7 linked regions of the Homo sapiens genome follow. The protein of the gene in region 6 purifies or fractionates together with the protein of the main gene of each other region. This does not show direct contact. Each region holds a gene or a part of one and is shown on either strand. Other genes may lie near its edges.

Evidence for each region.
Region 1: the proteins of KIF20B (region 6) and SLC38A2 purify together in Homo sapiens (affinity purification with mass spectrometry; one large-scale study listed by BioGRID and IntAct). This does not show direct contact.
Region 2: the proteins of KIF20B (region 6) and YJU2 purify together in Homo sapiens (affinity purification with mass spectrometry; one large-scale study listed by BioGRID and IntAct). This does not show direct contact.
Region 3: the proteins of KIF20B (region 6) and ASTE1 purify together in Homo sapiens (affinity purification with mass spectrometry; one large-scale study listed by BioGRID and IntAct). This does not show direct contact.
Region 4: the proteins of KIF20B (region 6) and CMBL purify together in Homo sapiens (affinity purification with mass spectrometry; one large-scale study listed by BioGRID and IntAct). This does not show direct contact.
Region 5: the proteins of KIF20B (region 6) and CDC42BPA purify together in Homo sapiens (affinity purification with mass spectrometry; one large-scale study listed by BioGRID and IntAct). This does not show direct contact.
Region 7: the proteins of KIF20B (region 6) and IMPACT purify together in Homo sapiens (affinity purification with mass spectrometry; one large-scale study listed by BioGRID and IntAct). This does not show direct contact.

What each region holds. Positions count from the first base shown.
Region 1 is NC_000012.12:46,362,774-46,366,273, reverse strand, and holds part of SLC38A2 (sodium-coupled neutral amino acid symporter 2), read left to right. Parts: intron 1-1,084; coding exon 1,085-1,167; intron 1,168-1,571; coding exon 1,572-1,630; intron 1,631-1,717; coding exon 1,718-1,885; intron 1,886-2,270; coding exon 2,271-2,350; intron 2,351-2,447; coding exon 2,448-2,548; intron 2,549-3,128; coding exon 3,129-3,253; intron 3,254-3,500. UniProt on the Homo sapiens protein: Symporter that cotransports neutral amino acids and sodium ions from the extracellular to the intracellular side of the cell membrane.
Region 2 is NC_000019.10:4,264,080-4,266,833, reverse strand, and holds part of YJU2 (splicing factor YJU2), read right to left. Parts: intron 1-2,754.
Region 3 is NC_000003.12:131,013,375-131,016,825, forward strand, and holds the end of ASTE1 (single-strand DNA endonuclease ASTE1), read right to left. Parts: intron 3,339-3,451; exon of another isoform or gene 2,966-3,338; coding exon 2,770-2,965; intron 1,883-2,769; coding exon of another isoform or gene 1,808-1,882; intron 1,014-1,807; coding exon 683-1,013; 3' UTR 501-682; downstream 1-500. Other genes in the region: ATP2C1 (calcium-transporting ATPase type 2C member 1), read left to right, coding at 2,778-2,873. UniProt on the Homo sapiens protein: Structure-specific DNA endonuclease that specifically cleaves single-stranded DNA and 3' overhang DNA.
Region 4 is NC_000005.10:10,305,103-10,309,390, reverse strand, and holds the start of CMBL (carboxymethylenebutenolidase homolog), read left to right. Parts: upstream 1-1,488; 5' UTR 1,489-1,766; exon of another isoform or gene 1,767-1,876; intron 1,877-4,288. UniProt on the Homo sapiens protein: Cysteine hydrolase. Can convert the prodrug olmesartan medoxomil into its pharmacologically active metabolite olmerstatan, an angiotensin receptor blocker, in liver and intestine. May also activate beta-lactam antibiotics faropenem medoxomil and lenampicillin.
Region 5 is NC_000001.11:227,143,993-227,147,492, forward strand, and holds part of CDC42BPA (serine/threonine-protein kinase MRCK alpha), read right to left. Parts: coding exon 3,367-3,500; intron 1,746-3,366; coding exon 1,497-1,745; intron 1-1,496. UniProt on the Homo sapiens protein: Serine/threonine-protein kinase which is an important downstream effector of CDC42 and plays a role in the regulation of cytoskeleton reorganization and cell migration. Regulates actin cytoskeletal reorganization via phosphorylation of PPP1R12C and MYL9/MLC2.
Region 6 is NC_000010.11:89,704,590-89,708,089, forward strand, and holds part of KIF20B (kinesin-like protein KIF20B), read left to right. Parts: intron 1-704; 5' UTR 705-705; coding exon 706-852; intron 853-3,500. UniProt on the Homo sapiens protein: Plus-end-directed motor enzyme that is required for completion of cytokinesis. Required for proper midbody organization and abscission in polarized cortical stem cells.
Region 7 is NC_000018.10:24,443,670-24,447,169, forward strand, and holds part of IMPACT (protein IMPACT), read left to right. Parts: intron 1-1,723; coding exon 1,724-1,797; intron 1,798-3,500. UniProt on the Homo sapiens protein: Translational regulator that ensures constant high levels of translation upon a variety of stress conditions, such as amino acid starvation, UV-C irradiation, proteasome inhibitor treatment and glucose deprivation.

The sequences.
Region 1 (3,500 bases), on a different chromosome or scaffold from region 6:
CATCTCCAAGATACTTCAAATATGTATGTGCAGGTACTCCAAAGTCCAAAACACTTCGGTCCCAAGCATTTTGAATAAGGGATACTCAACATGTGCCAGAAAATGTTTGGGCATGCTATAGAAACCATTTTCTTCTAGCAAAGTTACTCATCCCAGTGAACTCACAGGTATTTATCTAAAGTAAACATGGGGAAGGATAATTTACTTCCCACCCTATGTGCAGCTCATTACGTCAAAATAGAGAAGTGCTGTTATCTCAGATGTGGCTTTAGAAATTTAATTTTTTAAGCTGATCTTTAAGTGTTGGTGTTCTGCAGAGTGCTTACTGCTGAAGTGAACAGAATTCATGAGGCAATTAGAATTTGAAAATAGTGATTTAGAAGACAGTGCAATTCATGATTTACCTAAAAAGAAAAAGGCTTAGAGGATATACATAATGTTTTCTAAAGTTCAAAAGGGATATTTTTGGCTGTCTTTGGAGTTAAAGGTGGGTCAAGATGTCACAACATACTCTGATAACCTGGAATAAGTCCTGGTTTGGGGGACTGAGTTTTATAATTTTTTTTATGGGGGGGGCAGTTTGCCTGTGCATTTTATGAAAACGTTTCCTCATTGAAATATTTAATAATATTTGCTAACGCATCTGGAAAAAAACTTGTTTTAAAATTTTTTAGTTTCCAGCATTAGAAATTACATGCTAAAGCTGTACCAAAGTTGGTGTACAATTTTTCTGAAAGTGCTTAAAGATAAGATTACTGGCTTAACAAACAAGCTTTGTTCCCTGCATTAGTATCAAGTCTTTGAGAAGCATTTTGTGTTATGAATCAGCTGGCAGCCTTCCCAGAGCAAGTAGTGGGACAAAAGTTACACTGTTTTATACCCGACTTCTAACCTGAGTAAATGTTCATCTAGCACACAAAATTAAAAAGTTATTCCTATCTTGAACAGGGGAAACTTTTTCCAAACATGTCTTTTTTGTGTGTTTGTTTTCATGGTATTCCTATGAAATGAGTCCTGTTAGAAGATGTGTATATTTTTCAGAGGATATTTGTGACTGTTTTGACCTTGTTTCTGTTTTCTTTAGATTGTGGTATCTGAACGGGAACTATTTGGTTCTGTTGGTGTCATTGGTGGTCATTCTTCCTTTGTCGCTGTTTAGAAATTTAGGTGAGCAAACTCATCTCTAAAGAGAATTGAAATGAGCCTCTCACCAGTTAGTTGGGCTTTCTCTGAATAGAAATTAATCAGAATGAAAAAGCCCTAGAAAGTAGAAAGGTATATCTTTGGGACTTACAGCATGCAAAATTTAGGAGCCAAAATATTTAATTGACACTATATGTTGTGCTTTGTAAGAAATAATGCAAATGATAGTTTTTATTAGCTTGGGTTATGACAAGTATATTTAAATAAATCTATAATTTAGTATCATAAGAATTAGAAATTTAGTGCTATACACATACTTTAGTGCCTAAAGTCTTCCCAGCAGAATTGAGTTATTCAGTGGGAAAAAGATATTTGCCTTAAATCTGTTTCATTAAACTAATACTGATTCCTGCCACCCCTCCTTATAGGATATTTGGGATATACCAGTGGCCTTTCCTTGTTGTGTATGGTGTTCTTTCTGATTGTGGTGGGTATGATTTTTTTTTTAGAAAAAATTTTTTATAAGCCCTGCCATGTCACTTAGTTTAACACATGCAAAATAATATATTTTTAGGTCATTTGCAAGAAATTTCAGGTTCCGTGTCCTGTGGAAGCTGCTTTGATAATTAACGAAACAATAAACACCACCTTAACACAGCCAACAGCTCTTGTACCTGCTTTGTCACATAACGTGACTGAAAATGACTCTTGCAGACCTCACTATTTTATTTTCAACTCACAGGTAACTAAATATGCTTATTTTCTCAAAAGAAGAGTTTAGGGAAGAAAAGAGGGAAGCTATTCACTCCCAGGGTAAAGGGAGGAGGATAATAGGTGCTTTATAGAAAACATGTGATTAGCTAATTATTGAGGACTGTGAAGAAAGTTTTGGTTTACATCTGAAAATAGATTGAGAATTGAGATAATCATATGGTGCTAATAATTGACACATTCAGAAGTGAGGATATTGATCATACTTCATGAACAGATTAGAAGAATGGAAGCTAATTACACAAAGGAAACTTAGGCTTTGATTCTAAGATTGTTTACATAAAATATATGCTGCGGAAATGTGACAGCATGAGTTCGTTACATCAGATTAAGTAGATTTTTACGTTTTCTTTCAGACTGTCTATGCTGTGCCAATTCTGATCTTTTCATTTGTCTGTCATCCTGCTGTTCTTCCCATCTATGAAGAACTGAAAGAGTGAGTATTTCATTTTTACATAAATTTGAGAAAATATTAGACAATTGCTGTAACTGCTGCTGAAATATATATTTGAATTTTCTCTTGAATTACATAGCCGCAGCCGTAGAAGAATGATGAATGTGTCCAAGATTTCATTTTTTGCTATGTTTCTCATGTATCTGCTTGCCGCCCTCTTTGGATACCTAACATTTTACGGTAAGTAACGCCTCCTTTACCAAAACAAAAACAAAAACAAAAAAAAACGCTTATTGAAATGAAGCTGCTAGTTTTCTATGTGTAGTTCCATCACTTTAAAAATAGTCTGTTTTAATATATTTCATATTTGTGATGAGAAATTAAATTTAGAGCTTAGAATTTTCTGTAGTGTATTTAATCAGTAATTTCTAGAATCCAGGTTTGAAAATATCATTAATCATTTGATGGCATATTTGTATGATATGCCAGCCTCTGAGTTCATATTGCCTGTCTCCTCTCCCATCACCTTCAGACTATGTAACACAAACACAAATTGCAAGCCAAGCCAGGAGATTTAGCTGCTTAACTCCTGTTGTTTTTAATGGGAGTCATGTGGCTAAATCTCTGTGGTATTTAGAAAAATTTTCCTTCAATGTTACTTTAATTGCATTAACTATAATTCCAAACAAATCTTATTAGCCTCTTAGTTTATAGTCGTTTTGTGAGTAGCTAAATAACTGGTGCACATTTTGCTGTTAAATTTTCTACTTGGTGTCCAATGAAAACAGCCAATCAAAGTTTTTTTGGTCTTTCCCTGTAGAACATGTTGAGTCAGAATTGCTTCATACCTACTCTTCTATCTTGGGAACTGATATTCTTCTTCTCATTGTCCGTCTGGCTGTGTTAATGGCTGTGACCCTGACAGTACCAGTAGTTATTTTCCCAGTAAGTAATCACTTGCTCTGCTTTCAGTAGGAAGGAGTTTTTAGACATGTGAATATTGGTGAGATTTTCATCTTCTGGAAGAAGGGAAACACCAGTAGAACAATACTAAGTTGGTGGTGGTTTTGAAGGGGCTTTTTAAAAATACAGTGTATATTTTCAAAATACCCTGGGGACATTTTTTTCACCATAAGATATAAAATGATCTTTAAGTGTTCAGATGTTCAGGAAACAGCAGAGAAAGAGGCAC
Region 2 (2,754 bases), on a different chromosome or scaffold from region 6:
AACATTTTTAATTTTTGTAGAGACGGGATCTCGCTATGTTGCCCAGGCTGGTCTCAAACTCCTGGCTCAAGCGATCCTCCCGTCTCAGCGTCCCAAAGAGCTGGGATGACAGGCGTGAGCCACTGCATCTAGCCTCTTCAATCTGTTTTATGTTTAAATAGAGGAAGTGGTAACCACTGGGTTAAGGAAGTCCCAATGGGTGCTCTGCCCTCACGGAGCTCACCGTGTGGGGAGGGAGAGGGACAAGGAGACCAATACCCAGGATAACATCCATCTGGGTGAGAGAGAAGCCAGGGTGCGTGAGCTTGAATTGTGAGGATGAGCTTCTCAGAGGAAGGGCGTCTTGCATTGGGTATTGAAGGGCGAGTAGGAGTTCACCAAGCGAGTGCTTGGCAAAGGGGGCATCCCAGGTAAGGGGAATGGCATGGGTAAAGGCGTGATGAGAAGCCACAGTGTGATTCAGGAAGTGCCAGGGCAGGCTAGGTGGGATGGAGAATGGGCAGAGACCTTGAGTGCCAAGCTGACGGTGTGAGGGGCGGCCACTGCTAAGGTGGTGGAGAGGCCTCCTTAAAGTTGTGGCTCTGGGCCGGGCGCAGTGGCTCATGCTTCTAATCCCGGCACTTTGGGAGGCCAAGGCAGGTGGATCACGAGGTCAGATAGAGACCATCCTGGCTAACACGGTGAAAGCCCGTCTCTACTATAAATACAAGAAATTAGCCAGGCTTGGTGGCACACGCCTGTAATCCCAGCTACTCGGGAGACTGAGGCAGGAGAATCGCTTGAACCTGGGAGGCAGAGGTTGCAGTGAGCCGAGATCGTGCCACTGCACTCCAGCCTGGGTGACAGGGCGAGACGCCGTCTCGAAAAAAAAAAAAAAAAATGTCGTAGCTCTGGGCTGATGTCAAAATGAGGAAAAGAAGTCAAAAGGCACAGATGGCCAGGCACAGAGGCACACACCTGTAATCCCAACACTTTGGGAGGCCGAGGCGGGTGGACCACTTGAGGTCAAGAGTTCGAGACCAGCCTGGTCAACATGGTGAAACCCCGTCTCTTTATTAATAAAAAGAAAATACAAAACCTAGCCAGGTGTGGTAGCACACGCCTGTAATCCCAGCTACTCAGGAGGCTAAGGCAGGACAATTGCTACAGGCTGGGAGCCGGAGGTTGCAGTGAGCCGAGACCGTGCCACTGCACTCCAGCCTGGGCGAAAGAACAAGACCGTCTCAAAAAAAAAAAAGTTACCTAGGTTAGTTCCCAAACCTGTTTCTACAGGTGGTACTCATCATCATTAAACTAAACTAAGGATTGGGAGGCCAAGGCGGGAGGACTGCTTGAGGATAGGAGTTTGAGACCAGCCTAGACAACATACAGACTCGCCTCTAAAAAAAAAAAAAGAAAAGAAAATTAAAAATTAGCTGGCTGTGGTGGCACACACTACACACTTGTGGGTCCCAGCTACTTGAGAGGCTGAGGTGGGAGGATCATTTGAGCCCAGGAGTTGGAGGCTGCAGCGAGCTGTGATCGCGTCACTGCACTCCAGCCTGGGTGACAGAGCAAGACCTCATCTCTAAAATAAAAATAAAATAAACCAAGAAAACGCAAGTGTGGAGATATTCCTTCCTATAAAAGTTAGGGTGAAGGTTTGAAAAGTCTTGATGAAGGTGAATCACGTTAAAACCAAATAAAACACCTGCTATCAAATCAGGTAGAGGCACAAGACTGAGGGAGTAAATCAAAAAAGGTTGGACTGCTTTCAAAGTACCTTTACTCTGTTGATTCATTCAAAAAAAAAAGAAAAGAAGAGAGGAAGTTGTAGACAATGAATTCTGGGAGTGGTTTATGTGAGAACCACAGTGTGAGAACTCTAATCAGAGGACACAGCTTCAAAGAAAATGTCTTTTAGAAAAATGTCTTGGGGCCAGACATGGTGGCTGATGTCTGTAATCCCTGTGCCTTGGCGGGAGAACTGCTTGAGGCCAGGTGCGTGAGACCAGCCTGGGCAACACAGCAAGACCGCATCTCTGCAAAAAGAATTTGAAAAATTAGGGGCCAGGCACAGTGGCTCACGCCTGTAATCCCAGCACTTTGGGCGGCCGAGTCAGGTGAATCACCTGAGGTCAGGAGTTCTAGATCAGCCTGGCCAACATGGTGAAACGCCATCTCTACTAAAAATACAAAAATTAGCCGGGCATGGTGGCAGGCGCCTGTAATCCCAGCTACTTGGGAGGCTGAGGCAGTAGAATCGCTTGAACCCGGGGGGCGAAGGTTGCAGTGAGCCAAGATCACACCACTGCACTCCAGCCTGGGCAACAAGAGTGAAACTGTCTAAAAAAAAAAAAAGAAAGAAAGAAAAGAAAAATTAGCCAGGCGTGGTGGTGCGTGCCTGTGGTCCCAGCTGCTCAGGAGACTGAGGTGGGAGGATTGCTTGAGCCTAGGAGGTTCAGGCTGCAGTGAGCTGGGACTGCATTACTGCACTCCAGCCTGGGCAACAGAGTAAGACCCTGTGTCAAACAAACAAACAAAAAAGGAAGAAAGAACAATCGTTTCTTTTTTTTTTTTTTTTTTTTTTTTTGAGACAGAGTCTCGCTCTGTCGCCCAGGCTGGAGTGCAGTGGCACAATCTCGGCTCACTGCAAGCTCCACCTCCTGGGTTCACGCCATTCTCCTGTCTCAGCCTCCTGAGTAGCTGGGACTACAGGCGCCCGCCACCACGCCCGGCTAATTTTTTGTATTTTTAGCAGAGATGGGGTTTCAC
Region 3 (3,451 bases), on a different chromosome or scaffold from region 6:
TGGGTCAAAATCTGTAGTATAAAGAGGGCATAGGGTCTGGTATTGCTGCATATATCTCTTGATATTTTCACTTCTCACTGTTTCCTCCTTCTCCAGGTCTAACAGCTCAGGATGCTGTTTCTTATTTGGCTGAAGCCATTAGTTTCAACTTCTCCTTTAAAACCTGGAGTGCACCTAAAGTGCTCTTCAATCCTGTCATGGTCTCATTGACTAAGTACTTACTTTTAGTAGAGACAGTTTTCTGTCTGGCATCCTCACTTCTAACTTTCATTGGCCAGACTTCATACTAAAGTACAAAGAGGAAACTGTTTTTAAAACTTTTTGAAATGATAACCAGCTGCTACTTAAAGGCAATAATTGAGTGAGACTTCTACTTTCTGAGAATGTAGCTGGCTAAATTGCTGCAATTTAAAGCATATAGACTATATTACCATTAACTTGCTGAAATGGAACATGAGAAGTATAAACATGGTTTCAAACATATTTAGAAATACAGAAGCTTCTTAAATCAGGTTGTATTTATTAAAAACAAAATACAAAATAACTTGGAATTCAGATTATTGTGATGTTTATCCCCTAACAGGTCAGTCCTAAAGAAAAAGCTAATTGTTTCAAGGGTGGTAACGGAAGAATTTTAAGTAAGGATTATATTAAATACATCTAGTTTGATGCAAACTGAGTTTTATTCAATGTTGGAGGCCTCACTATGTTCCTCTAAGTTTTCAACCATTAACAACCCAAACCGGTTGTTTCCCTCATACCAACACTTGGTGTGTGCAGTGGTTCTCCCTCTGTTCTTAGAACAGCTGGTATTCTGTTTCTTCTGCCTTTTTTTTTTTGAATTTGATCTACCTTTTGGTAGGAATATTTCAGCGGGGGCATATGACCTTGTGGCATTGAATAGATATTCATAAAGTTGCTTAGCCTCAGGACATATGCTCAGGAGACTTTCTACAGAGGTCGATGCTAGCAGTTGCTGGCATAGTCCGTGCACCAGGCTTCCACTGTACAGTCTGTTCAAAGCAAGAAAAAAGTATGTTGTTAAAGAAGTAATTCAGTGCAACAGGATAACTACCATTGACATAGCTTCAACAAATGCATCTAAACAATGAGAGCTCTTATTGCTCTATAATATTATCGAAATTACTTAAGAATAATCTGTTCTTTGAAGGAAGGAACTGAGCTGGTATGACAAAGATTCTTTGCTGGTGATACTTAAAAACTTTTCATCAACAAATTACGTGATGCATGCTTAGTGGTTTTGCAGCTAGCCCCAGACTGAGCAGGTGTCTTTAACAAACACTTTAATTTTAAAGAAAAGGAATTTAAAAGGACCCTGATAAACCAAACAGGCAGTTTGTTAGAATATGAGAAAATTTATTGGCATCATTTGCAAGGTCATTCACTGAGACTAAAAACCTACTTCACAAATAGAAGATGGGATTAATTGGAATCCACAAGTTTATTATGGACAAAGCTGATAAACTGGTACCTTAGCAATCCATGTAGAACCATCATTTAATCAGTGTAACATCTCTGTGTAAAAAGCCTTGGTTATGCTAAGATTCAAGAACAATCCTGCTGTTTAAATCATTATTAAGAGAACTGTTTTGTTTTGCATTTCCTGTTTTGTTTTAAAAGGATTTGTGGTAACTAAAGAGGATCCAGTCAAGAATGGCCTTAAATTATTAAACGAAAGAAATAAAGAATCCAGGGGTCAAAGGCCAATTAGTCTTATTTGTGTTAGCTCAGATATAAGGCCCAGAGATATATTAACAACACTGTTTACTGCCAGGAGGCTTTTTACCTTGAAACATGTAAAGTCCCACCATATTTTGTATGCGTCCATATATCCTCATTCAAAGTATTGAAGGCACTGGGGCTGCAACAGCAAATAAAATAGACAAGCCCCTCCCCCCACAGAGTTTACATCTGAGTGGAGAGACAAACAAAACACAATCTATCTCCTTTTTATCTTCATCTCTCCCTCAAGTACCTCCTGGATGGTCAATTACCAAGATGTCCAATCCATTGATCCTATCACTTTTTTCACTGCTCCACACCCTACTGCTGCTGTCACTTCTTTTTATCATACCCAGCTTAAACTCCACAGACAAACATTATAATTACTCTGTGGCACATAGGCTCAACTCCCTTATTGTCCTTCTTGCCTGGTAAAGCAAACATCCTAGGTTAAGTTCACTTGGGCATCTACTCATCATCTCACTTAGAATGAAAGCTCCATTAGAGCTGAGATTCTGTTTTTGTCCCTACACCCTAGCACAGGGTAGGCATTTAATATCTGAATGAATGAGTAAGCCATATGCCAAGTGGTAAGAAATGCAATTAAAAAAAAATAGAGTAACAGGACTAGAGTGAATGAGGGTAGACAGTGTGTCTCACTAGGGTGGGTTATCAGAAAAAGGCTCTACAAAGTGACATTTAAAGACTGAGAGGAAAGGAGAGAGTTGTATCCTACCAATGATTGCCTCCCCTCTCCCACATATTAATGTATTACTTAAAGGAACTGATTTTTTAAAATTGGATTGAATCATGGAAACATTCTTTGAGAATATGGAAATAATTTAATATTTTTCCCGTTTCCAGCTCTTCAGCTGTAACAGTGACTCAAAATCAATTACATTAAGATTAGTTTTTTTTTGTTTTGGTTTTTTTTTTTAAGTAACTTTGTTGCTTTAAATATAAGTGAAAATACTGTATTTACTTTTGTGTGCTTCCATCTGAACTAAAGTTTCCCATGGTGCTTACCGAGTTAGGTCTGGCTCTGGGAGAGGAGTGGACAGCAGCTGGTTGAGATACATCCCCATCTGGAGACAGGACTGCCACTGACAGAAGATGTGAGCTGTGTCTAAGTCCAGTCTTGTGCCCAGCCGTGTCTGCGCCTTCACTCTTTGGAACTCTGCATACAACATCTTAGCACCATCTTCCTGCAGCTCTTCCTTACCTAAATAAAGAAACAGCCCAAGGGCAGTATTTCTAAAAGCACTGTAACAGCTTTTCATTTTCTCCACATATACTACAAATTCTATAAAGAAAGAAATTAATTTAAAAAAACTAAGATGTTTTTCTCTTCTGGCTTCATAAATGCCTTGCTGTATAAATTGAAATATTGATACTGAACTGTCTTTTTAATGATGACCTAACTTTATTCAACCCATCGGAATTTACTTTTTCCCTGAAATAAGATCTTTTCCACTGGTCTACTACCTGACCATAAACATGTCTGCATTTGAATTCTCTAAACCCTAAATCTGTGTCTATGAAAAATACAAATGACTATTAAATATTATTCTCTTTACTGTTCTCTTTCACCGAAACTCCCAAGCTGTGGTGCATTTGTGTTAAAGAAACAACCTGTGTGTTCAAAACACATTTTGACCTCTGTGTTTTATAGGAGGAAGCTAAAGTATGACTTGGAGAATTTGGCAAA
Region 4 (4,288 bases), on a different chromosome or scaffold from region 6:
GAATTGCTTGAACCCGAGAGGCGGAGGTTGCAGAGAGCCGAGATGGGACCACTGCACTCCAGCCTGGGCGACACAGCGAGACTCTGTCTCAAAAACAGCAACAGCAACAACAACAACAAAAACATCATAGATAGACTTGGGTAGCTTAAACAACATTTATTTCTTATAGTTCTGGAAGTTGGAAGTCTGGGATGGGCCAGCAGGATTGGGTTCTTGGTGAGTATCCTCTTCCTGGCATACAGATGAGGAAGCAAGCTCCCTTGCCTCTTTTTGTAACGGCACAAATCCCATTCTTGGGGGCTCCACCCTCATGACCTAAGCATCTCCCAAAGGCCCCGCCTCCAAATACCACCATGGGCGGGGTGGTTAGGATTTCAACGTACAAATTTTGGAGGGGACACAAACATTCAGTCCATAACAACACCTTTGCAGTGGGGATGGCAGGAAGTGCGGCCACCACGGTGCAATGGCTTTTTAATGTGCCCATTTGTCCAGGCTGAGCTATATTCCTAGAATTCCCTTTTCCTGTATGTTTCCAGTTTGAGTGAGCCACAGGGGTGTGCTTCTGCAGCCAAGTTGAAGCTGTTGTCATAACCTTGGGCAGATGACCAGAGAAAATACGAAGGAGGCAAGTATGAAACGTGTATTAATTTCTTTTTTAAAAAAAGGCTTAATTTGGGGCTGGGGCCGGGTGCGGCGGCTCACGCCTGTAATCTCGGCAGTTTGGGAGGCCGAAGCAGGTGGAACACTTGAGGTCAGGAGTTCGAGACCAGCCTGGCCAACACGGTAAAACTCCGTCTCTATTGAAAACACAAAAATTAGCTGGGCGTGGTGGCGCGTGCCTATAATCCCAGCTACTGGGGAAGCTGAGGCAGGAGAATCACTTGAATCCGGGAGGTGGAGGTTGCAGTGAGGTTGAGGTTGAGATCGTGCCACTGCACTCCAGCCTCGGCAACAGGGTTAGACTCCATCTCAAAAAAAAAAAAAAAAAAAAAAAAAATTGTGGCTGGGCATGGTGGCTCACACCTGTAATCCCAGCACTTTGGGAGGCTGAAGGGGAGGATCACTTGAAGCCAGGAGTTCGAGGCTCCAGTGATCTATGATTGTGTCACTGCACTCCAGCCTGGGTGACAGAATAAGACCCTATCTCTAAAATAAAATAAAATAAAATAAAATAAAATAAAATAAAATAAACAAAAAATAGCTTAATTTGTATTTACAACAGAAGTTACTTGTCTTGGAAGCCAGGCACGCACGTAAATCTCACAGAAGGCTGGCTGTCTTCCTTCTCCTGGCCTCCCTGCCTCCTCCCTCAAGGCTGCCTGATTCTCTTCTCCCTTCCTCTCTGCGGTTCCCTCCCTCCCACCCCCTCTCCCTGCACCTTTCTTTATCTTGGAGCCTCTCCCATCTCTCCCTCCCTCTTCCTCCCTACCCCACCCTCCGACCACCCCACTTCTTCCCCTCCCCTCACACTTCCCTCCCTCCCTTCTCTCGTCTCCTCCCCACTGCGCCTCCCTCCCTCCTGGCCTTCCTTCCCTTCCCCGACTTTGCAGATTTCTCTTCCCCCAGGCCTCCCTCCTCCACCTCTCCGCCCCCTCCGGGCTTGGCTCTCCCAGGAGGCTACGACTGGAGCCACTGGTCCCGCAGGATCCCCGCGTCCTCGGTCGCCGCGTCCACGTCCCTCTCGCGTCCCCGCCCGGCGCCACGCCGCCTCCTCTGGGTTCGGCCTCCGCGCGGTGCAGCGCAGTCTCAGGCCGCGGGACAAGGTACGTGCGCGTCCCCGGGGCACACAAGCCCACACAAGCCCGGGCCCCGCTCCTCTGAACTCCCGCGTGTGTTCTGACTATGGCAAAGAAGGTCTTTGCCGCGTGCACGGGTAAGGAACTTCCCATAGTCCGTTTTCAGAAGCTGACTTTCATAAAAGTGATACGTTGTCCTTGCAGAACAGCAGCCTCCACGATCCCATGCGTCCGAAGCAGCCGCTGTTTACATTTTGGTATTTTCCTGTAGGTGTTTCGCCATGCATTTTAAAGACATAGTGGAAATCACACCGTATGCAAACTTGCGTTCGTTTTGGCCATTTAGCACGGAGGAGCCTTTCCACCATGCCGTTAAATACTCCTTGTAACTCTCTTCCTGCAGTGAGACATTCTGGTTGTAGCGTTTTTACTAATATAAAACTATTAAAAAACTGAGCATATTTGCAACTAAATCAGCATCCACATTCGACAGCTTTTCTTTAGGGTGGGTATTAAGAAGAGAGGTGCTGGGTCTATGGATCTAAGAGTGGGACATCCTAAATGCTGGGTAGGTGTGCCAGGAACGACTGGACAGTTTACACCCCACAGCCATGTGGGTCGGGCAGGCCTTGGAAACACTGGGCACTGAGATTTATGTCCACTTGCTGATGGAAGATGCCACCTGTTGTTTTCAAAGCCCATTTAAAATAAAGTGGTTAGTAATGAGCCTCGCCGGTATCCGGGGAATCCTGTCCAGGCCTGGGAACCCTATCCAGGCCTAGGAACAGCCAGAGAAAAAGCAGATTCTGCAGGGGCGTCGTTGGCATGTCTAAGAGGGCCATTGTGGGCTCATCCAGGTAGCTTCCTAATTCATGCTATCTCGACCATAGACACTTGGAAAATACAAGCATGGCTGCTGAAAAATAAATATTTGGAGAAGTTTGATGTTTGTAGAATCATCTAAGGATAAGTACTGGCCCTGCCTTCCCTGCTGCAAGATTGAAAATCACTTGCCATGCAAGTTCCTACAATGTTTAAGCAGTAAAGGAGAAACCTCCTGCCTTTCCCATTAGACCCCACTTTCCTGTGTTGTCTTGGGGTCCTCTGTAACCCTGAGCCCTGGATGCACTTCCACGTGGTTTCTATTTCTAAATTTCTAAAGCTTCCAGAAATGTATTCCTCCCTTCTCTCCTCTCCTCCCCGCTGCGCCTCCCTCCCTCCTGGCCTTCCCTTCCCCTACTTTGCAGACCTCTCTTCCCCCAGACCTCCCTCCTCCTCCTCTCTGCCCCCTCCGGGCTCAGGCTCTCCCAGGAGGCTGGAGATGTATTCCTAGACTTCCCTGCTTGTTATAATCCCAACTGCACCAGTCCCTTTTGCTTGTCAAAATCTGTTTTCTCTATTTCTGTTGGAGAACTGCGTTGTGCCTGGAAGTCTGACTTGTGAGTTATTTGAATCCTTAGGGCGTGAAATCAGGAAAACCACACCCTCACCATACTTTATCACCTCTCTTACCTGTCTGACTGCCAGTGTTAGAAAGGGAATGTTTGATTACATTGTTAAAAGATAATTTTCAGCCAAAGGTGAAATCGTGACTTTTATACAGATATAAAAGTGATAAATATTTTATTTTATTCATTAAAGAGAGAAATAGGCAGATGTTGTAACTGGTTCAAAAAAGAAGTCAAGAAGTGCAAATGTATACGGAGTAAAGGAGTGCCTTGTGAAGGTACACGCAGGAGAGGAGCATACCCTTGGAATTTGCAGATCAAACACTCAACTGTAAGATTGGGCACAGTGGCTCATGCCTGTAATCCTAGCACTTTGGGAGGCCGAGGTGGATGTATCCTGAAGTCAGGAGTTTGAGACCAGCCTGGCCAACATGGTGAAACCCAGTCTCTACTAAAATACAAAAATTAGCCAGGCGTGGTGGCATGTGCCTATAATCCCAGCTACTCAGGAGGCTGTGGCAGGAATATCGTTTGAACCAGTGGGGCAGAGGTTGCAGTGAGCGGAGATTGCACCATTGCACTCCAGCCTGGGCAACAGAGTGAGACTCCGTCTCAAAAAAAACAAAAAACAAAAAACAAAAAACACTCAACAGTGATCCCCATGGGTTTTGATGTGTAATTTTCCAGAGGGACATGCTTGTGTTAGGCAGAGTGAGGCTCCTTCACCCCTACAGAGTGACTCCTGTGGCCCCTCCAGCTCTGCCTCACACAAGCAAATCTCTCTGGAAAATTACACATCAAAACCCATGGGGATCACTGTTGAGTATTTGATCTGCAAATTCCAATTCCATATGCTCCTCTCCTGTGCATACCATCACATAGAAGTCATTCACACATATGCAGCACCTTGCAGCAATGTCTATGGGGAATCATGCATTTGTGCTGGTGGTGGCCAGTGTGGGCATTGCCGACGAACATGGCCACCAGGGTGTCCTGCAGGGCACTCCACAGAGCTAGGAAAAGCGTCCTGATTTCCAGAGACGTCACCAGTGGAGACCACAGAACTGACCTGGGGATGACCAGAAGGTGGCCCCAAACACA
Region 5 (3,500 bases), on a different chromosome or scaffold from region 6:
TTCTTTGTGAAGTTTAGACAGGAAAGTATGAGAAATTTTTATCTGCCTTGAATACAGTACTAGGATGGTTTTACAATTATCAGTTATCAAACAGTGATCACAGCTTATTGTATTGAAATAGTATTCACTGTTTCAGTGAAAAGTTATATAACGTGTACCGATTATGTACCCACAAAAATTAAAAATAAAGATTTTGTTAAGTCATATAACATTAACATAAAAATTTTTAGTACAGGATTAAAGCCATAGTAAATAAAATAACTGAATAAAAATAAAAGCTCAAATTAAGAAGGCTAAAAAGGGGCCGGGAGCAGTGGCTCATGCCTATAATCCCAGCACTTTGGGAGGCTGAGGAGGGCGGATCACAAGGTCAGGAGATCAAGACCATTCTGGCTAACACGGTGAAACCCCGTCTCTACTAAAAACATAAAAGTTAGCCAGGTGTGGTGGCGCACGCCTACAGTTCCAGCTACTCAGGAGGCTGAGGCAGGAGAACGGCGTGAACCCGGAAGGCGGAGCTTGCAATGAGCCGAGATTGTGCCACAGCACTCCAGCCTGGGAGACAGAGCGAGACTCTGTCTCAAAAAAAAAAAAAAAAAAAAAAAAAAAAAAGAGGAAGGCTAAAAAGGCAAAAAACTCAAAAATTTTAAGTTCTTATTTTCCTAAATTTTAATCTCATATAACCTAAAGGGTTATAGCAGAGGTCAATATACTATGTTGGCCTGTTTTGGCATGGCTCACAAGTTAAGAATGGTTGAATTATTTGGCTATTGGACTGGCCGAATAATTGGCTTGAGGTCTGTATTCACCTCAGGCAGGGCTATACCTCAGAGCTATACCACGTCTGTGGACTATTTTCCCTATTGATTTCCTACCAAGTTTGCTATTGTTAGCAGCAACACACTGGGCTTGGGTATTTAGTCCTGGAATCTGCCCTCTGTATCAGCAAAGCTGCTGATTTTTCTATCCAGTTCCATGCTACTAGTACTACTGTCCCAGACCAAGTCAGTAGTGGGGATGGACGTGTGTGGTATATGTGACTTTAAACTAAAGTTCAGCAGTTTTTCACAAATAAATGCTTCTCAATTTATTTCTCTTCAATTGTTGTATCAGGCCCTGACATGGTTGATTTTGATAATTTTGTCCAGTTTTATGGTTTTAGGGAGAAATTTGCCAACCTCTGCACTTTACAATCATAAAATCTGCTTTTTTAAATATCTAATTTGTTCTCTTACGAAGCTTAATGGCATAACTTATCTAAGAGGTAAAACTTTGAATTTTAATTTTGTTCTTAGTCACAAATAACTATGTTCACCTCAGTTAACTTTCTTCTTAATTTGATTTGTGACAGAATAAGCACCAGAAGCCATGATCACTGACTAATAACTGATCATTGTAAAATCATCCTAGCAAAATACTTATAAACCAAAAAATTACTATATAACCATAGTAGAAAGAAACAGAGGGACAGAACTTCTTCACAGTGTCATACTTACAGAATTTTTTAAACAATCATCATCTACATCAAAATTCGATGTATCTGTTGGGCTACTAACTTCTGGAATATAAGGTGCTTCACAGTTCCGAATATTATCCCAATCAATTCCACTGAAAAATGGGTGTTTCTTAAAGTCTTCTATTCCATTTTGACCAAGTCGATGTTCTCTGCTACAAATGAGCCTTCGAATAAGATCCTTAGCATTTTCAGACACATCAGTCACTTGGGCTGGAAACTGAAACCTCTCCTAAACAGAGAAAAACAGAAACAAAATATAAATCAGTGTTTAACATACTAAGTAGTTGGTTGACTTATTTATTTTCTTAAAAATACATTTTATTTTAAATATATCTAATAACTGCATGTTGGTGCAAAGTACTAATACTAAAGGAATACAGGGATGAATGACAGAAGATCATTTTCCTAGGACTTTTAATTTCATATATGACTCAATCATGCATGCGCTATAGAAAGAAGAATACATTGTACCTTAGATATCTTAAACTGCTATCAGAATGAAGAGAAATTACTTCAAAGTAGTGGAATTTGACTCTATTTAAATCAAGATAGATGATTGATAATGGTCATATAAGTTACATACTAATGATTAACTAATAATAAATATTTTTAAAGGACATAATATGTATCTGACACTATTTAAAGTACGTTACTCATTTAACCCTCAAAACAGTCATTTTAGGTGGGTACTCCTACTATGCTAATATTATAGAAGAAATAAAGACACACAGAATTCAAGTAACTTTCTCAACATTACACATCTAGGAAGTGGCAGAACCAGAATTTGAACTGAAGCTGTAATCTGTGCTGTTAAATATATACTACAATATTTTTTTCTAATTCAAATGATGTACATGCTATTTACAACCCTGCTGCTATTTCCAGTCTTTCAACTCTTTATAACTATATGAAACATTATCTTTGCAAACAGGAAGAAGAATATAAACCCTATAAAACTGATTTTTATACATGTAAAGCAACTAATCATAATTGCTTCACTAGAACAAATTAAAAAGAATAGATTATCATTCCCTTCTATCGGATATTCATATTCTAAGTATTTGCAACTGCTCACAATCTTCTAAGACTGCTAATAAAACCTTTCTTCTTATTATTATGAACAGTCTATTTCACTTAGTACTAAATATATTAACGTTTCATTAATTTGTTCTTGTTGTGTGTCTGTGTTGCTTCTAGTGTTCTGTGATCATAAATAACGTTAGAATAGGTATCCTTGTACATATATCTTTGTTCTACTGAGAATGTCATAGGGTAGATTCCTAGACTGAAGTTGCTCAATCAAAACCTCTAACCATTTTTTAAGGCTCTAGGTGCACACCTGTAAACTTCCTGAACAGAAAGGTTACACCAATTTATATTCCTATTAATGTCTTAGAATGCCCATCTCACTGCATTATTTATGGTACAGAGTACTATTTTTCTTTTGATCTTTGCTAATTTGACAAGAAAAAAAAGTATCTCATCCTTATTTTAAATTTGTATTGCACTTATTACCACTAAAGTTGAAAATTTTTTTACACATATTCTAGTCATGATTATACATATACTATAGTAAGCAATGATCTAAATTCTCTACTTACGACCTTTGTTATTCTACTGGGGAGACCACTTAATTTCCTACTTAGCGGCATCTCTAATAAAATACAAGAAAATTAGAACTAATAACTTATGAATAATTTATGGATTTTGACTATTTATGTTGTCCTGTCCCATACTAGGATAGAAATGTGATTGTTCACTGTTTTTAGAAAAATATTTTCTCTTTAAAAATGGTTTTATTATATGTGTTATTTACCACATTAATTTGAACAAAAGTAAAACATACTAACTTTGTGGTTCATGATTTTTCCGTATGTCTCCACCAGCGATTCTGCATAAAATGGTGTTTCTCCGTAAAGCATTTCATACATACAGACCCCCAAAGACCACCAGTCACATTCAGGTCCATATCTCCCTTTTCCAT
Region 6 (3,500 bases):
TCTGTCACCCAGGCTTGAGTGCAGTGGCGCGATCGCGATTCACTGCAACCTCTGCCTCCCGGGTTCAAGCAATTTTCTGCTTCAGCCTCCCGAGTAGCTGGGATTACAGGTGCCTGGCACCACGCCTGGCTAATTTTTTTTGTATTTTTAGTAGAGACGGGGTTTCACCATCTTGGCCAGGCTGGTCTTGAACTCCTGGCCTCGTGATCGACCCGCCTTGGCCTCCCAAAGTGCTGGGATTACAGGCGTGAGCCACCGCACCAGACCCAGATAACTGAGTTTTAACTTTTAAATGCTAAAACAAAGTCTGTAAGTAACATTCTACAGGAGTCACTAAGTAGATGACACAAGGTTATAATTTACCCTGTGATCTCCTTACTATTTGAGTTTTGAGAGGATTTCACGGAGAGAGTAAATATTTTATACCATCTTTACAGATTACCTGTACTCACGAAACCTCTTTGAATGGATATTATATGAAAATAGTAGGCTGTGTTCAGTATTATTAGAATCAGAGTCTGTAAATATAATTTGATCTTTAGTCTTTCCTGTAGGGCATTGTGTTATAAATGAAGCAATGTAATGCGTTTCTTTTCTAAAATCTAGTTATTTGGAGGGAAGTAGTGGGCTAGACTTTTGAAAGTGTGGGTGGCTTACATGCTGACTTATTAAGGTTGTTAAAGAAGTTGCTGTTATTCTTGCAGAATGGAATCTAATTTTAATCAAGAGGGAGTACCTCGACCATCTTATGTTTTTAGTGCTGACCCAATTGCAAGGCCTTCAGAAATAAATTTCGATGGCATTAAGCTTGATCTGTCTCATGAATTTTCCTTAGTTGCTCCAAATACTGAGGTAAGTACAAGAAAAGTATTGTGTTGATTATCATGCCTCCTTCTAATGCAAGGGTTGGCAAACAATGGCCTGTTTTTGTATTACCTGTTTTTGTACTTAGATACAAGCTAAGAATTGTTTTTATATTTTTAAATAGTGGAAGAAAAATCAAAATAGGAATAATGTCACATAACATAAAAATTATATGAATTTCAAACATCACTGTCCATAAAGTTTTATTGCATCACAATCGTGCTTATTGGTTTATTTATTTACTACATCCGTTGTGGCACTATAATGGCAGAGTTGAGTAGTTGTGAGGAGACTATAGGGTCTCTAGAACCTAAAATATTAGCTGTCTAGCTCTTTACAGAGAAAATTTATTGACTCCTGGATTGGCATGATGTTTTTGAGATTTGTCGTGTGTCATACATCAGTAGTTTTTCCCTTTTTATTGCTAAATAGTTGTCTGTTGTGCAGATATGCCACATTTCCATTTGTCGTTTGATGGACATTTAGGTAGTTTACAGTTTGAGGTCATTATAAATAATGCTGCTTTGAACATTCATGTGCAAGCCTTTTTGTGAACTTGTGTTTTCATTTTTCTTTGGTAAATACCTAGGAATACAAACTGTATAAGTTTAACTTTATAAGTAACTACTAAACTGTTTTTCAAAGTGGCTATCCCAGCAGTGGCAATGTATGTAGGTTCCAGTGCTTCTACCTCTTTGCTAACACTTGATAATGGAACTTTTTATTTCTAGTGGATGTGTAATGGTATCCTGTTGTGGTTTTAGTTTGCCCTTTCTAATGAGCACTCTTTCAAGTATTCTTGGCCATTTTTCTACTTTCTTTGTAAAGTGTCTCTTCAGATCTTTTTCCCATTTAAATTAGGTTGTTTCATTAGTGTTTTGTGAGAAATCTTTATGTATACAAATCCTTTATCAGATTAATAGTGTCTTGATGATCAGACATTTTAAAATTTAAAGACATTCAATTTAACATTTTCTTTTCTTCTTTGGTGAATTTTTTTGTGTGTGTGTTCTCTTTAAGAAACTTTCGCCTTCCCCAAAGTTTTTGTCTTACTTTTTCTAGAAATTTTAGTTTTCATTTGAGTAGTTATATCTGTGGTCCATTTTGAACAGTTTTTGTGTGCAGTTGATATAGGGACCCAGGTTAACTTTTTTCTTTTTCTTTTTAGCTTCCATACATTTTTTTTTTTTTAACTACATAAGTAGTTATTTCAGCATTATCTATTGAAAAGACTTTCCTTTCCCTGTTGTTTTGGTGCTTTACAAACGGCTGTGTATATGTGGATCTATTTCTGGATTTTATTCTCTTCCTTTGACCTATTTGTCCTTATTCCAACACAATACTCTCTATTTCTGTAGCTTTATAATGATTCTTGAAATTAGGTAGTGTGAATTCTCCAGTTTTGCTTTTCTAGGAAAATTTTGGCTTTTCTAGGTCCTTTGCATATTCATAAATTTTAGAATCAGCTTGCCAGTTTCTACAAGACAGCATCTTGGGATTTTGACTGGGATTGCATTAAATCTGTGGATCAGTTTGGAGAGAATTGACATCTTGACAATATTGAGTCTTAATCCATGAACACAGTATTCTTCATTTTATTTAGGTCTTTAATGTCTTAGCAGTATTTTATACTTGTCAATGTAGAGGCCTTTCGTGTCTTTTGTCAAATATATTTATAAACATTTTATGTTATTTGATGCTATTGTAAATATTTTTAGTTGCTTTATTTAGGCATAATGAAACACTGCATATATTTTAGATACGCAGTTTGATAAGTTTTGACATGTGCATACACTTATGTAACTGTCACTACAGTCAAGATAGTGAGTATAACCATTACCCTCAAAAGTTTCCTTGAGGCTCCTTGTAAGTGCTCCCTCCCATCACACCTCCAAGTAACCTCTGATTAGCATTTTGTTAGTATACATTAATTTTTTGTAGATTTGTTGGATTTTGTATGCGTATGTTCATGTTGTTTCTAAATAAAGAAAATTTTATTTCTTCCTTCCCAATTTGGATGACTTTTGTCTTTTCATTTCCTTTTTTTCTTTCCATTTTTTTTTTCCTTTTCTTTCCCCTCCTCTCCCCTCCACTTCTTTCTTTCCCTTCTTCCCTTCCCTTTTACCTTTCTTTTTCCTTTCCTTTTCTCTTCCCTTTTTCTTTCCCTTACCCCTCCTTTTTTCTTCCCCCATCCCCTTTCCCCCTTCACACCCAATTACACCAGCTAGAACCTTTAATACAATGTTACTAGAAGTGGGGAAGCAGAAATCCTCTTCTTATTACTCATTTTGCTGCTCATCTTAGATTGAGTCTTTCCTGTTAAGTTTGTTGTTAGCGATAGATTTTTTGTAAGTGCCCTTTATCAGGATGAGGAAGTTTGCATTCATTACACTTTGCTGAGAATTTTTATTACAGATGGACGTTGGATTTTGTCAAATGCTGTTTTCCCATCTGTAGAGATAAAAGTTTCTCTTCATTTATTCTTTTAATATGGTTAATTGCCTGGATTGATTTTTGAATGCTAAACAGACTTTATATTCCTAGAATAAACCATTCTTGGTCAGATGTATTATCCTGTTTTATATATTGGCTAGTATTTTGTGTGGGAAATTTTGCGTATATCTTAATGTGGTATT
Region 7 (3,500 bases), on a different chromosome or scaffold from region 6:
GGACAGTGGACAGACTGGCTAAACCAAGTCCTCCCTACCTGACTTACTTTCCTTTGTGCTTCTTGATCTTAGGTGACCATATTTCCACCCAGGGATATAAATGGGAGAGGTTTCAGCCATAAACTATTCCTAGGTCTTTGCCTTTCTCATTCTCCTTTCAGCAGAATCCTTTTCTTCTTCCTTGCTTCTATAATGTAGCTCAGCTTACATTATTGATGTACGAGGCAATTTCAATACTACCTGTAAAGTTACATTTTTAAAAATGTCTCATTTACTGCAGGTTTTAGGCATGAGTCTCTTCCTTTGGTCTTTGCAGCTACCCTACTCTTGAAGCTCTTTAAAGCCCTGGGCTTCAGGGATACAGCTCTTTGTACCAGGCTGTTTCACTCTCTGAAAGAGGAAGTTCTTTTCTGCGTTGACTTGTGGTCAAGATCATAACTTTTGGTGCAGACTTCTGGTCTTTTCTCTCAGGAATCCTATTTTGTCCCTGGCCCTTAGTCACATCTTCTTCCCAGGGTCCTCCTGAGACATTCTAATTCTGAATCTGTTTATTCTGGATCCTCTTTCTGTTTCTGATCACAGTCACTTAGATTTATAGCATTATAATTTGTGAGAGCTGAAACAAGTTTTAGAGGTCATTGTCTATTTTATTGATCAGAATTTGAGAACCTGAAAGATTATAAAATGATAAACAGAAGATTGCACAATTTGTGATCCAAATTGGTGTCCCCAACTCTAGCTCAGTCTTCCCTGCCACCAATATTTCTTCCATACTTCTTGCCATTACAACATCCCTGAAAAATCTGACCATGTGTCATTCTGTTCTCTCTCTTATCCACCTTCACACATGTAATCTTTGCTGATTTCCAATGTCTACAAGGGAAGATCTAAACTTATTACACAGATCCTTTGTAATATGGCCCTAGCTTATCATTCATGACACATCTTCTGTCATCTCATTCATACTCTAAGTTAAGCTGTGTAAAGCTTCCTGAACTTTTCTCTTTTTTGTTCCCACTAAGGTTGCCAGATAAAATACAGAATACCTAGTTAAATTTGAATTTCAGGTAAACATTATTGCATGGGATGTACTTATAGTAGAAAAATTACTTGTCGTTTATCTGAAATTCAAATTTAACTGGATGTCCTGTACTTTTATTTGCTAAATTTGGTCACCCAGTCCCTGTATTTTGCATATAGCCCTATTCTCTGTGTGGAATGTCTTCTTCCTGCCCCATCTTTCCTTTTGATGCAGGAGAACTGCCACTTATAAGACCTGGCTCATGTGACCTCCTCTATGAACCTTACTTGACTCCCAGAGAAAGATGTGGTTTTATAACATTTGGAACATACCACTATTGTACACCTGCTACATTGGATGTATACATTTGGTAAATTTCAGAGCTAGTTTTTAGAAGTTTTATATGATACATTTAAAATTCCCTACATGGGGAACAAACTTTCCCTTTGACATAGTAGTACCGAAATATTTGTTGATAATTAGTGCTCAAAAATACCAGGTCTGTCATTTTTATACCAATTATGAGTACCAGTCTCTGCCCCTAAAATGAGAAGGAAACTTTGGAAATGACTTTTTCAGAGTATAGTAGACTCTTTAAGTGACTATTTATTTTAATACAGCATGCTTCAAGGTATTTTTCTAGCATTTATTTACAGAGCAAATATAAAAAGCATACTTATTTATATTATTGCTGTTTTTAAGGTGAAAATGGTTCTTTCCAAATTGTATGAGAATAAGAAAATAGCTAGTGCCACCCACAACATCTATGCCTACAGGTGAGTAATCATCACAAGCTTTAGTATACTCAGTTTGTTAAAAATAGAGGGAAATGATGCATGATTTTAGAAAATAATAACTATTGTGTATTTTTTCCATTGTAATAGTAATAGACATGGAATATTTGGAAACTGCAGAAAAGATAAAAAAGAATTGAAGGGAAAAATCTGGCATTTTCTGCCATCAAATGTAACTGACAATATTTTGTTTTTTGTTTCATTTTTTTCTCTGCAAAGTTTAATTTTTCCCAATGCTTTATTTACCCTTGTATCCTGTTTTTTTCTTAATTAAACAAAAGCACTTTTTCATATTGTTATAACTGCTTGATAAATACTGTTTAATGGCTGTAAAATATTTGAGATGCCATACTACAATTAACCATTTCCTTTTAGTTTTTCATGTTTTTCACCATTATAAAGAGTGGTCCAGGGAACATCTTTGTATACTTTTTAGGTTATTTCCTCAGGATAGGTTCTGGTTGCTTGAGATTCTTTTTTGAAATGAAATGGGAATATAATAAAAGGAAGAAAGAATTCTTAGAAGTAGAATTATCAAAAAGTGTGAACAATTTTGAAACTCTTGATATATAGCCAAATTTCTTGCAAAGGTTTTGTTTTATTTTGGTTTGGTTTTTGAGACAGGGTCTCAAAAACCCTGTTGCCCAGGCTGGAGTACAGGGGCGTGATCTTGGCCCAAGCAATCCTCCCACCTCAGCCTCCCACGTTAACTGGGACTGTAGGTGCGAGCCACCATGCCCGGCATAATTTTTGTATTTTTTTGTAGTGACAGGGTTCTGCCATGTTGCCCAGGCTGGCCTCAAACTCCTGAGTTCAAGTGATCTGCCAACCTTGGCCTCCCAAAGTGTTAGGATTTACAGGTGTGAGCCCAAATGTTTTTAAAACCAATTTATGCTCCTGTAAGCAGTGAATTAAGAGTATTTCTTTTACTACATGAGTTTCAGTTTTGAGAATTCAGGTTTTTATATGCATCTTTGCTGATTTGTAAGTGAAGAGATGAAGGGCATTTGAAAAAATACGCAAATTTGTAAGACTTTAAAAGTACATAGTTTAGGCCTAAAATAAATCAGAACACAGGGACTTGGTGTAAATTTAAAATGTGATTGAGACTATTTGTAGAATCTAGGCTATCTGAAACTGAAACTCAAAAATTCATCATTTTGAGTAGGTGAGTTCTTAATATTACTAATTTCACATCTCTTTAAGTGCCAAAACTTACAAACAATTATTTGTTATGTAATTCCCCTCTTAATAGAGTATCACTGGATAGAATTTTAATGTTTTCTTAAGCAGTTATGGCCTTCAATAGGAAAATGAGGAATTAGACTACTCTCAGTCATTAAAATGGGCTGTAAAAATTGTAATGTTCATTTATTCTACATGTTTTTTGAGTGCCTACTCTGTGCCAAAACTTTATGTAAATTAACTCTTATTAGTTAGCAATTCTAGCACTGTAAAAAGGTTAGCTTTTTCAAGATCCCATAGTTAAGTGATGGAGCTGAATTTGATAATCCAATTTCATTTGTTTTCTTTATTTCACTCCTCTATGGCTGTGGCTACAGCTTCAACAATCTTGTATCTAAGCTATGTAAAAAAAGAAAAAAGTACTCATAGTATTTTAACTTTAATGTTCATAGTAGATGGTCAGTAAATATTTATTGAGTGGATGGATGGATGAAGGGAAG